Regions from separate parts of the Homo sapiens genome. Here region 1 is linked to region 2. The links come from fine-mapping of genetic effects on gene expression. A gene starts in region 2. The other region holds a variant in brackets. All regions are shown on one strand. Distances are from middle to middle.

What was found. PIP is the estimated chance that this variant, and not a neighbour inherited with it, causes the effect.
Region 1: its variant is the best candidate, but not a certain one, in a credible set for the expression of ATP10A in whole blood (INTERVAL, PIP 0.78).

The regions. Positions count from the first base shown.
Region 1 is chr15:25,772,580-25,777,949 of GRCh38, reverse strand. The region is part of intron 2 of ATP10A (ATPase phospholipid transporting 10A (putative)); the gene reads left to right. Among named protein-coding and RNA genes, the nearest start is that of MIR4715, 74 kb to the left of the region's middle. The variant T/G (reference allele first, on the strand shown) is at 3,161.
Region 2 is chr15:25,860,216-25,865,534 of GRCh38, reverse strand. ATP10A (ATPase phospholipid transporting 10A (putative)) reads left to right here and starts at 2,208. Exons shown (of 21, transcript NM_024490.4): 1 at 2,208-2,887. The coding sequence starts at 2,439. ATP10A-DT (ATP10A divergent transcript) reads right to left here and starts at 265. Exons shown (of 2, transcript NR_183988.1): 1 at 1-265.

The DNA.
Region 1 (5,370 bases), 88 kb after region 2:
AATAAAAAAGAAATAAAGAGGACCCTGAAGAATATAGGAGCCAGGAACAGTGGCTCACGCCCATAATCCCAGCACTTTGGGAGGCTGAGACAGGAGGATTGTTTGAGGCCAGGAATTCCAGACCAGCCTGGGCAACACAGAGAAACCCCATCTCAAAAAAAAAAAAAGAAAGAAAGAAAAAAAATTGCCAGATATCGTGGTGTGCAGCTGTGGTCCTAGCTGCTCAAGGGATTGAATGGGAAGGATGGTTTGAACCAGAAGTTTGAGGTTGTGGTGAGCTGTGATCATGCCACTGCACTCCAGCCTGGGGGACAGAGACCCTATCTCTGTCTCCAATATATATATATGGGAATAGCTGATGAAGGGACAGCCACTGCCCCTGGCTCTGAGACAGAGTTCTCCCACTCAGGGAAGAGTACCCTCCCAACCCCTGAACCATGGCAGGGGGCACAGCCTTAAATTTGGGGATGGCAGGAAAGGTACTTAGGGGCTGTACTGGTGGAACTTGCTAGAAGCCTTCCCTTGGGGACCGGGGAGGCTATTGCCAGGGAGGTGCCAAGCATAAGAACTTGCTAGATGCCAGGAGCAGTTGCTGGACGCTGCTGGAGCCAGGCCCTCGCTGCAGTGGATGAAGACTGGTGACAGCTCTCTAGACAGCAGCGCCGTGGAGCCCCACCTTTGAGAGGGTGCATGGAGCAGCAGCCTGGGCTTGAGAGGGCCCATGTTGCCTGCAGGAATATGTCCAGGGTACCCCGGACTGAGAGATGGGGAAAGTGTGGAGCAGGCCAAGCCCTGGAGAAACCTGGAGGGAGTGGGCAGTGCGGAACGGGTACACACACACACACACACACACGCACGTATGCACACACACGCATGCACACACACACACACCCCACCTAAAGACCAGCCATGGGACCAATACGTGGAGGACTCAGGCCTATTCACCAGTGATGCCCAGTATGGAGCAGTGAGATGAGTCCAGGGGGCTTTTGTTAGGGGTTTGGGGCCATGAGAGGTCAAGGGAGGTTCCAGAAAGAGGAGCTTGAAACTGACTCTGAAGGCCAGGATGGAGAGGTCTCAGGTGCCAGGCACTACAGGGAATGACGTCCGTCAGATGGTGCCCCAGAGGCGGAATAGGGTTGTATTTAATGAAGAGCATTTGAAAAAGTGCGCAGTGTTGAGGGGCTACAACAAAAACCGGAAGGCGGTGGGCATGGCCCACCCAGACCCCAGAATCTGAAGGCGAGGCCTAGACACCGGGCTGATGGCTCCGGGACCTTAAATCACCCAGCTATTTCACTTCTGGCAAAAGAAACAGAGATCTTGAGACGTAAAGATTTGATGTAAGAGTTGGAGTTGAATGGATGTTATCCAAGAATTGAGAGAGGCCCCCGTGTGGAGCATCACACTGTCAGGCAATGTCTCACATTTGTTCAGCCTCCTGCACGCCAGGCCTACTGTATCTCCCACAACTGTAGTAGAGCAAACATTTTTAAACACAATTTCACAGAATTTTAAGTATAAATCTTGTGAGATAATGATTATCACACCAATTTATAGATGAGAAACAGAAAAAGTGAAGTCAGGAGATTCTCCCAAGGTGCCTCCCCTCCCCCACCCCATCCGTCAGTGTGGATTCGGAGCGGGTTCCTCCACTTTGCGTGGGGTGTCTGCTGTCTCTCACCTGCACATTCGTGCAGCCCTGCCACGAAGGTGCATACGTTCAGATGTTCTGTGGGTAGCAGTTTCTAGTTCATTTGTAACATTTGTCATTTCTGCAGAACTAGGAGATCCCTAGACTGATAATTTTATATAAAACTCAGTGTTTTCAAAGACTCATTTTTGTAAGTTTTAATTCATTCAGCAGATACGTACTGAGCATTTATTATGTTTCTAACGCCATTCTAGGAGGTGCATTGATCAAAACTGGGGAACATCTTTCCTGCCATAGTGCTTACATGATCTATGTGAAAAGTTGGATAGACGGTTGAAGTCTTCGGTGCTAACTGTAGACGAGAAAGCAGAAACAGGGATATGAAATGTCAGATGAGTGTTGGAATTTCAGCCGGGGTGAGGCGGGGACAGGGCTGTCCTGCTTGAGAACAGCTGGAGAGTCCAGACCCAGAGGACACGTCAGTGTCGGGAAGAGCCGTCCCAGAGGTGACTTCTGTGTGGGTTAATTTACTGAGAAAATAGTTTCCAACAGTTTGTCTCTTGGGTGGACCTGTTTGGATGAGTGCCCACAATCCCAGCCACACCCACGTCCTCTGTGCAGCGCTGTGGGGAGTAGTCATTGTCAGGCTTGCAGGAAGATCTGCTGCTGACTCTTCCCAGGCGTGTGCACATGTGTGCACGTGTGTGTGTGCACAGTGGTGCGTGTTCCAAATAAGGAAGAAAGATAAAAGGAGTATGGAAACTTCCTAGGCTGGACAAACACTGCTCTTAAACACGTACCTTCACAGTCAGGTCAGCAGTGATGCCAAGGCGGAGACAGGGTTTCCCCTCTGTTTTGTGAATACACTGTGACCAGTCCCTGGGGGGCCTGGTGTATTCAGGCTCTGACTCAGCACGGTTTTCTTTACAAAGGAGAGTCAGTCCCACCCCAAGTTACTTGACAGAATTCAGAAGCTTAGAAAGTGACTTCAAAAGTCCAAATATGTAGAAGACAAAATATTTTTTTTAAAAAACTGCTACCTACACATGCTTCCAAAATTGTCTCTATCACAGGAAAACTAGAAGTGAAAAAGTATAATTTGCAAGGTAGTTTTTGTACCCAAGTCTCTTTTTCCCTAAGCTTTTCAAGTTGTTAGTCTTTAATGAAATTTAGCTACATTGGCCGTGGAATTGAAGGAGGCAGCATAATCTATCATCTAAGTGGAAAATAAAGACAGCTGCCTGGGTATGGTAATTAGATCGGTCAGTTTTAAGCCTTTACAAAGAGGCTTCCATGTTTTTCTCTTATACATTCAAGGATAGTCAACAAGCTCATAATTTATACTGAGACATTTTTGTTTTTAAATTTAACAATCTCATAATTTTCTTGAAGGACATTAAATCTGTAACAGGAAAGACAGAAATAAATGACTTTGACAATACAATAACTTTATTTAGATTAAATTTTTAATTCTAACAAGTGTGGATATTCATAGAAATTCAGTTC[T/G]GTAGGTAATATGATTATTTGAGACATACCATGTTTTTTCATATTAACTGTGTTTATTTCATGGCAATATAAGTTTGGCCCGAAGAAGATTTTTTTTTTAAATTCTGGTGACTTCATAATGGATTCTTTGCCTTTAATTTATAGTCTATTAAATCACCATGTACAGAGAGTGCAGCACCAGCACTCTGATCTTTTTTTTTTTTTTTTCTTTTTGAGACGGAGTTTTGCTCTTGTTGCCCAGGCTGGAGTGCAATGGCACTATCTCGGCTCACTGCAACCTCTCTGCCTCCCGGGTTCAAGTGATTCTCCTGCCTCAGCCTCCCAAGTAGCTGGGATTACAGGCATGTGCCACCACTCCCGGCTAATTTTGTATTTTTAGTAGAGACGGGGTTTCTCCGTCTTGGTCAGGCTGGTCTTGAACTCTGGACCTCAGGTGATCCACTCATCTTGGCCTCCCAAAGTGCTGGCATTACCAGTGTGAGCTACCGCACCCGAACCTCTGATCTAAATGAATAAATTAATGCCATGAAGTTGATAATAATTTGGCTAGTCTGAAATATTTATCCAAAAAGATCTTCTTATATTGTGTGGAAACTTAAAATTTTTTGTGTGGTTGGAAATGATCATTTCTTATTCCAGAAGTAAAAAGACAGCCAAAGCAGTAAGATGTTTTAATTCTGTTCAAGGTAGCGTACAATGTGAAATGCTTTTTTTCTCTTTAACTATATTTTCACTGTTTAAAAAAAAAAACGGGAATTTAATAAAATTTCCAATTTTCCTAAATGTAGTTTAATTGCATCAGCAGTTGCAAAGGGTTTGAAACTTCCTCTGTGTGTATGTGTGTTTCTGGAGCAGGGATTTCCTTACCAGTAGGAAGAGGTGACAATGTGAGATCGACGCAGTTAACACTAGGCATCTCCTCATGAGTGAGTGAATATGTGTGTGTGTGTGTGTGTGTGTGTGTGTGTGTGGATGTTTAGGTGTGTATGTTTGTGTGAGTGTGTATGCAGACAGGTGTGAGTGCAAACATTTTTGCAAGTGAGTGTGCAAGTAAGTGTATGTTCCAAAGAAGAAAGCAAAATGAAGTGATATTGCTTTATTAGGTTGTCACTTTCTATTATCTCTAAATTTAGGAGAGGATAAATGTTCCCTCCTGGGCTAAGATATAGTGTTGCAGAAGTGGATTGCTCTGCAAGAGAGTGCTCCCTAGGGGAATCTGGAGTTTCCAATCTCACTATTGAGGACCTGCTGTGAGCCCATGCATTACGTGAGGGGTGCCCACGCAATCCACTTCTGCTGATTGGACTCTGGAACCTTTGTCCCTTGGTGGAGGCCCTGTGCTGTGTGTCATTTCCCTTCTGCTTGTTTTGTGAGCACAGCTTTCAACAAGAGGGAACTTCCTTGTGTCCACAGAGCACAATGCAAGACCTGTCAGAGCACCTCCGCAGACATTGGAGTTATCTTAATTTTGTGAATTGGTAAGAGCCAGCTTCCCTCGTTCAACCTATGCAATGCTTTCGGTTTGCGAGTGCTCCTCAAGTGGAAGGCTGTATTTTGGTTCTCACTGTGGTATTAGGGCTTCCTTAGAGTTTCGCCCGTCTACAGCAGCAGAGATCCATGAACACATTTGCAGTTTCATATAGTCACATAAACCAGACCTTATAAAGGAATCGACCTTTAAGGAAAGCAAGAACTCGACTTCAGGAAACACTATTGCCTACTGGGATGTGGATGAAACTGGGCTTCCTGACATCTCAGTTGGGTTTAGTGTCGAAATTAATTCAGGGCTTTTTCACCATTGCTAATGAATAATCCGTGTGCCAAGGAAATGACTTCGTGAACCCCAGTGAGACTTTTAACCAAGCTGAGATCAGGCCTGCAAACTTCTTCAATTTGTCAGTTTTCACAAAGCCCTTTTCAGTAGTGTGTCTGTCAGAAGGCCTTATGTTCCCCGCCTCCCAAAACTGTAAAAGGACAAGAAATGTGAGTGTCATTGCTGGCCACGCTGTCTTCCCTGGGGTTCCGGAGAGTGGGGGATTGGGTGCATGCCGGGGTGTTCATAGGTTAGGAATTGTGCCAGATCTTCAGGGTCGTTCCACTCACCTGTCACAACTGACCTTTGCCGCACTGGCACCAGCCCTTGGCGAGAAACAAGCCCTTTCATTTGTGTGGTAAAGAAGGCCAACTTCAAAGCATTATGGATGTAGGTT
Region 2 (5,319 bases):
AACAAGGACACTTACAGTGGTTCTCATGGCCTATAGCAGGCCCTTGTTAGAGCCCTGTGGTGCAGATGGCCAACCCAGAGTTGACCAGACCACATCAGAGCCTCATCCTCGCCCCAGCAGGCCAGGGTCTCAGAGTCCAGCTGGCAGAAGACACCTGAGCTCAAAACCCCTCCACGATTCCCCAGATCACACAGCTTGGAGACCTTTCCAGAGGTGAGCTGAGCTAGGCCTTCCTGGAAATCCTGACTTTGCACTGGGGAAGAGCAGGTGGAAAAAGATTCCAGACTTGAGGAGCATTGTGACTCACAGAATCTTGGAACCTTAGAGCGGAATGTGGATGGGATGAGTAAGGACTGTTCTGAGAAGGATAAGGAGACCTCTCACCTTGGGGCTGGGCCTGAACCAGGGAGGGGCTGAAGAAAATCAGCAAGCTGGTTCCCCTCAGGGCCTCAAGGGACCTCTGCCTGAGGAATCAGCATTTGGCTTTGTAAGCACCAGGAGTACTCCTGGAAGCTCCAGGGTAAGCAAATGGAATGAGGCGGTAATTACTTTGGCAACAGTGTGGACTGGCTGAAGCTGGGAGTCTGGTAGGCGCGGACACCCCTGGAGACTTTGGGCGAAGGGTCCACGGGGATGCCTGTGAAGACAGGAGGCCGAAGTGTAGGGAGGCCGAAGGCCTCGGGGGTCACCAGGTGGGCTGGTAGAGGAAAACACGGAGCCATGGGATGTGAGGCCTCAAGACTGCAGGCGCTGTGGGCCTTCATTTGCAGTTGATGCTCCGTTTGGGTTTCTGCTGGTTGACTGTGAGACCTGACTCCTTTCCCCAACAATGCAGACTTCAGCCAAACCTTTCCCTGATCTGGGCCTCTACATGTCAAAAGCCCACCCCTGTGACTGGGGGATGGGATTATTTTCTTCACACCTGTCACCACTCTACCTTCTAACACTGGGTTCTGGGCAACATTGTGGATGGTGGCAAAACTGGGCAGAGATGTAAGAATGTCATAACTGGAGCCGGGTAAGCCAGGGTGCTGGAGGGGAGGGCCTCCCCAAGCCAGGGTCCTGGCGAAGACGTGATTTGAGTCCATCCAGGGCAGTGCCTTGTTAGCAGGCACCCCCAGGAAGAGCCTGGGGCCACGGCCAACCGCCCAGCCACGGCCTCCTGGGCAAGAAATAACTGCTTCTCATCTCTGTACTTCTTGAGTGGGAGGCAAACAGTCACAGCCATGAAACATCTGTGGGGTCTCACTGCGGACGTGGGGGACTCCCAGCTCCTTTTTCCATGCCGTGCTTATTCTCCCACCCCTTCTCGGATGCCCCATGATGTGGAGGGGAGCCCTTCGCCCCACACTTCTGGGACACCCTCCTGACGCTCCCCTCTCCTCCCCACAACCATCCTCGCCTCCCCACAACCATCCTCGCCTCCCCCGCCGTCCGGGCCATGACAGCCACCTCAGAGCTACAGCGCACAAGGAGCGTTTCGGTCCTCATGATTTCCCAGGGAGGGAAACAGACACTCAAATACCTGCAAACCAAATTCTGTCTTTGCTATAGCGATATATTTCTCCTTTCCATGAAGAAAGAACAGAAAAAAGAAAAAGAATTTATTTAGGAGAGGAAGGAAAGGCAGTAATGATGATGGTGGAAAGGAAACGGTCTAGTTCGCCCAACAACGGAATCTGAAAGTGGTGGGGGCTGGGAAGTGGGGTAGGAAAGAAGTTCTTAGAGGCAACGCGGAATCGCCCTTCCCAGGGCTCCCCAGGAGCAGAGGTCCTGCGTAAAAAAGACTTAAAAATTGGAGCACTGGATGCCATGGATCCTTTGGATTTTGATTCCAGTTGATCCCTGGAGTAAGGTCCTAACCGGGGTCTCCCGAGGTCGTTTCGCCGTCCAGGATGGAGCAGGTCTGGCCCCTGGAAGGGCGCGCGGGCTGCTTGGGGACGGGGGCGCCTTTTCTCGCGCTTCGCGGTTTCCTCTCTCCTACTGCAGGCAGCGCGCGTTTGCAGCGTTTTGGGACCGAACTGATGCTTCTGGGAAACGAAACTAAACCTCTCTGAAGTTTCCAGCTCGGGCTTTTTTTGTTTCCCGCTATCCGGCGTGGCCCAGTCCGGGCGCGGAACGAGGGCGGGGCCGTGGCCACCGCGGCGGAAACGACCCGGGCCGGGGGCGGGCGGCGAGGACAAGGGGGCTCTGTGCGGCACCCGCCCAGCTTGCGCCCTGGGGACTGCGGCCGGGCGGCGGGGCTGGACGGGAGTGGACGGGGCTGGGCGCGGGCTGGGCGCGCTGGGCCGGCCAGGCGGCGCGCTGACCGCGGTCTCCGTGCGTCCCGCAGGCGGGGAGCTCGCACCGCCGCGCCCGGGCCGCGAGTGATGATAACCTAAGAGGCCGGCGCGGGCGGGCGTGAGCGGCGGAGGAGCCGGGCGCGGCGACACGCGGCCATGGAGCGGGAGCCGGCGGGGACCGAGGAGCCCGGGCCTCCGGGACGGCGGAGGCGCCGAGAGGGCAGGACGCGCACGGTGCGCTCCAACCTGCTGCCGCCCCCGGGCGCCGAGGACCCTGCGGCTGGCGCGGCCAAGGGCGAGCGGCGACGGCGGCGCGGGTGTGCCCAGCACCTGGCCGACAACCGGCTCAAGACTACCAAGTACACGCTGCTGTCCTTCCTGCCCAAGAACCTGTTCGAGCAGTTCCACCGCCCGGCCAACGTGTACTTTGTCTTCATCGCGCTGCTCAACTTCGTGCCGGCGGTGAACGCCTTCCAGCCCGGCCTGGCACTGGCGCCGGTGCTCTTCATCCTGGCCATCACGGCCTTCAGGGACCTGTGGGAGGACTACAGCCGCCACCGCTCCGACCACAAGATCAACCACCTGGGCTGCCTGGTCTTCAGCAGGTGAGTTGGGCGGGCGGGCGAGCGAGCGCGCGGTGGCGCAGGGCAGGGCGCCCCGGGAACTTGGTGTTGGGCACAGTGATTGGCAGGGGCTGGGTGCTTAGAAGGCAGCTCCACTCAGGGTGGAGGGCCCGGCTGCGCGGGACCCGGTGCCGACCGAAGCCACAGCGCCGCCAAGGCCTCTCTGTGCCTCCGCCGCAGCTAAAGGGGCGCCCTGGATGCGGGGACGCGTGGGGATCCCCTGTCACTCCGTGTCGGGGCCAGAATGATCCCAAGGCTAGAAACCGACGGCCGCTGGACATCCTCATCCACAGCCGCTCCCACCTGAAGTGAAAGGCAGGAAAAGCCAGCCTGGCCCCCTGGCCTGAAGTCCCTGCCTCAGTCTTCGGCCAGGCACAGTGGTCTCTGAACAGCCGGCACAGGACAGTAAAGCTCAGTCTGCTAACAGCTCGGCTCAGGACAGCAGCAAAGTGAAACTGCCGCCAAGTGCTGATATGTCTGGCACGGCCCAGGTACCAGGGCAGGGGAAATAACAGCAGTGTCCATCCTCCACTGTGAGCCATGAGCCGCGAGCCAGGCACCGCCCGGTAGCTGCCTGCCTAATTTTCTTCATCTTAACCTGCTTCCTGGGGGAAAGAGGCTGTGGGGTGTTTGTGAGCCCTGCCACGGGCAGTACCAGGGGTGACCCTGCGATGGACCACTCCTGCTCTTTTTCCCTCCCTGAGTTTTAGAGTCTCCGGCGGACCTGTCCAGAGGCCTGCGGCCTTTTCATCCTTTATGCTCTCCACCCCAGGAGAGCCCCTTGGTAGATCCATCTTGGAGCTGTGTCCAGCAGCCTGGACCACCTCAAGGCCCTGTCCCTGAGAAAGGTGGGTCGTCTTAGCTTTCCTCCAAAGCTCAGCCCATCGTTACCTCCTGCCTCACCTTGCTTGACCCCGGAACAGGGACTGAGATGGGCTTCTGAATAGAACATTAGCGGTATCTGGCTTCCATTATGCATGGGGAGACTCTAGGAAGCCCTATGCTCTCTTAGTGGCAGATTGTTCCCCTAAAAGAGGAGGGTCAGAGTGGCTCCTGCCTCTTAAACGTAGGCATTCACGAATGCCTTAGACACAGGCACTCATAGCTTGGATGAAGCCATGGATGCGTGCCTCTGTAGTTGAGTACCTTTCACCCTCCCAGCAACACTGCAGTGGTTATGCTCCATATTTTTGTAAACAGAGTAAACGGGTTCAGAGAGGTTAAGTAAACCTGCCCAGTGTCACACAGCAGCAAGGTCGTGGTACTGGGATTTGACCCAGGTCTTCCCGCCCGCACAGCTTTTTGAATATTTCTTTGCTCGTGCTTCTGAAACTTTTGTAAGAGTCACTGAAGGCGCTTGTTAAAATTACAGTTTTCCAAAGTGTCTCACTCAGCAGGCCTGGGATTGAGCCCAGGAATGTATTAGATTAGCGTGCACGTAACTCTTATATGATGGCCCACACTTTCAGAAACACCACTCTGCCTGCTCCCAAGCCTTGCTCTTTGGCCAGTCAGCAAGAGTGACTGTCATTAGACCGGGCTGTGGGATTTCCTGGCCCCTGTTCACCAGAAGCCTGAGCAGGGACAAGAGCGGCACCCCTTACACAAATGGCCTCCGTGTCCCCTGAGCGAGGCCTCCACCACATAGCCCTGGTGGGGCTCAACAGTTTTAAGCCTTTGCACAGATACCACTTCCTGTTATTACTGAGCCCGTAACTCCTGTAGCCTCCTTTTTAGAAATACTTATGCCTCAGGAGAAATACAGTTTATTTTCAGTTGGCAAAGTGCTTTGAATCCATTATGTCATTCGATCCTTATAGTAACTATCACACCCATCTTGCCGATGAGGAAACTGAGGTTGGGATCTAAAAGCTATTCTCTTGTCTCTGTGACCTTGTAAGGCTTCATGGGACTTTGAAACTTTAGCTTCCATTTGGACTACACCCATCTACGTTCCCCTCCCCTTCCACTCTGCCCTTGACTCCAGATATCTTAACTCTCCCTCAGACTCTGTCTTCTTCCTTACTGAAGGAACTGTCAGCATTTTTCATTCACTTCCCAGCTGCCTTGAGGACAGTGGGCGCAATGCCCTACTTCTGTTTATTGTTCCCTGGGAAGGCAGGTCAAATTCTTCCAGTCCCAGAAAGGCTGGAAGAGGTGGTGCCAGGCCCTGGGAATAGAAGGAGGAGGAGGCTGGTTTCACCCAGAGTTTACTGTAGGGACAGATGGCACCATAGGGCATGTCTACCAGGTGAAGTCCTGGGTGGGGCTCCCAGCCCCGGGATGCAGGCTCCATGTCTGGCGAGGCGTCCCAGTGCAGGACAAGAGTCTGGGACGGTGGTGTGAGGATCAGGAAAATGGTGCCAAGCAAGGTGGGGCAGAGAGTGGGTGCTGCAGTGAGAGATCGGGGGCGG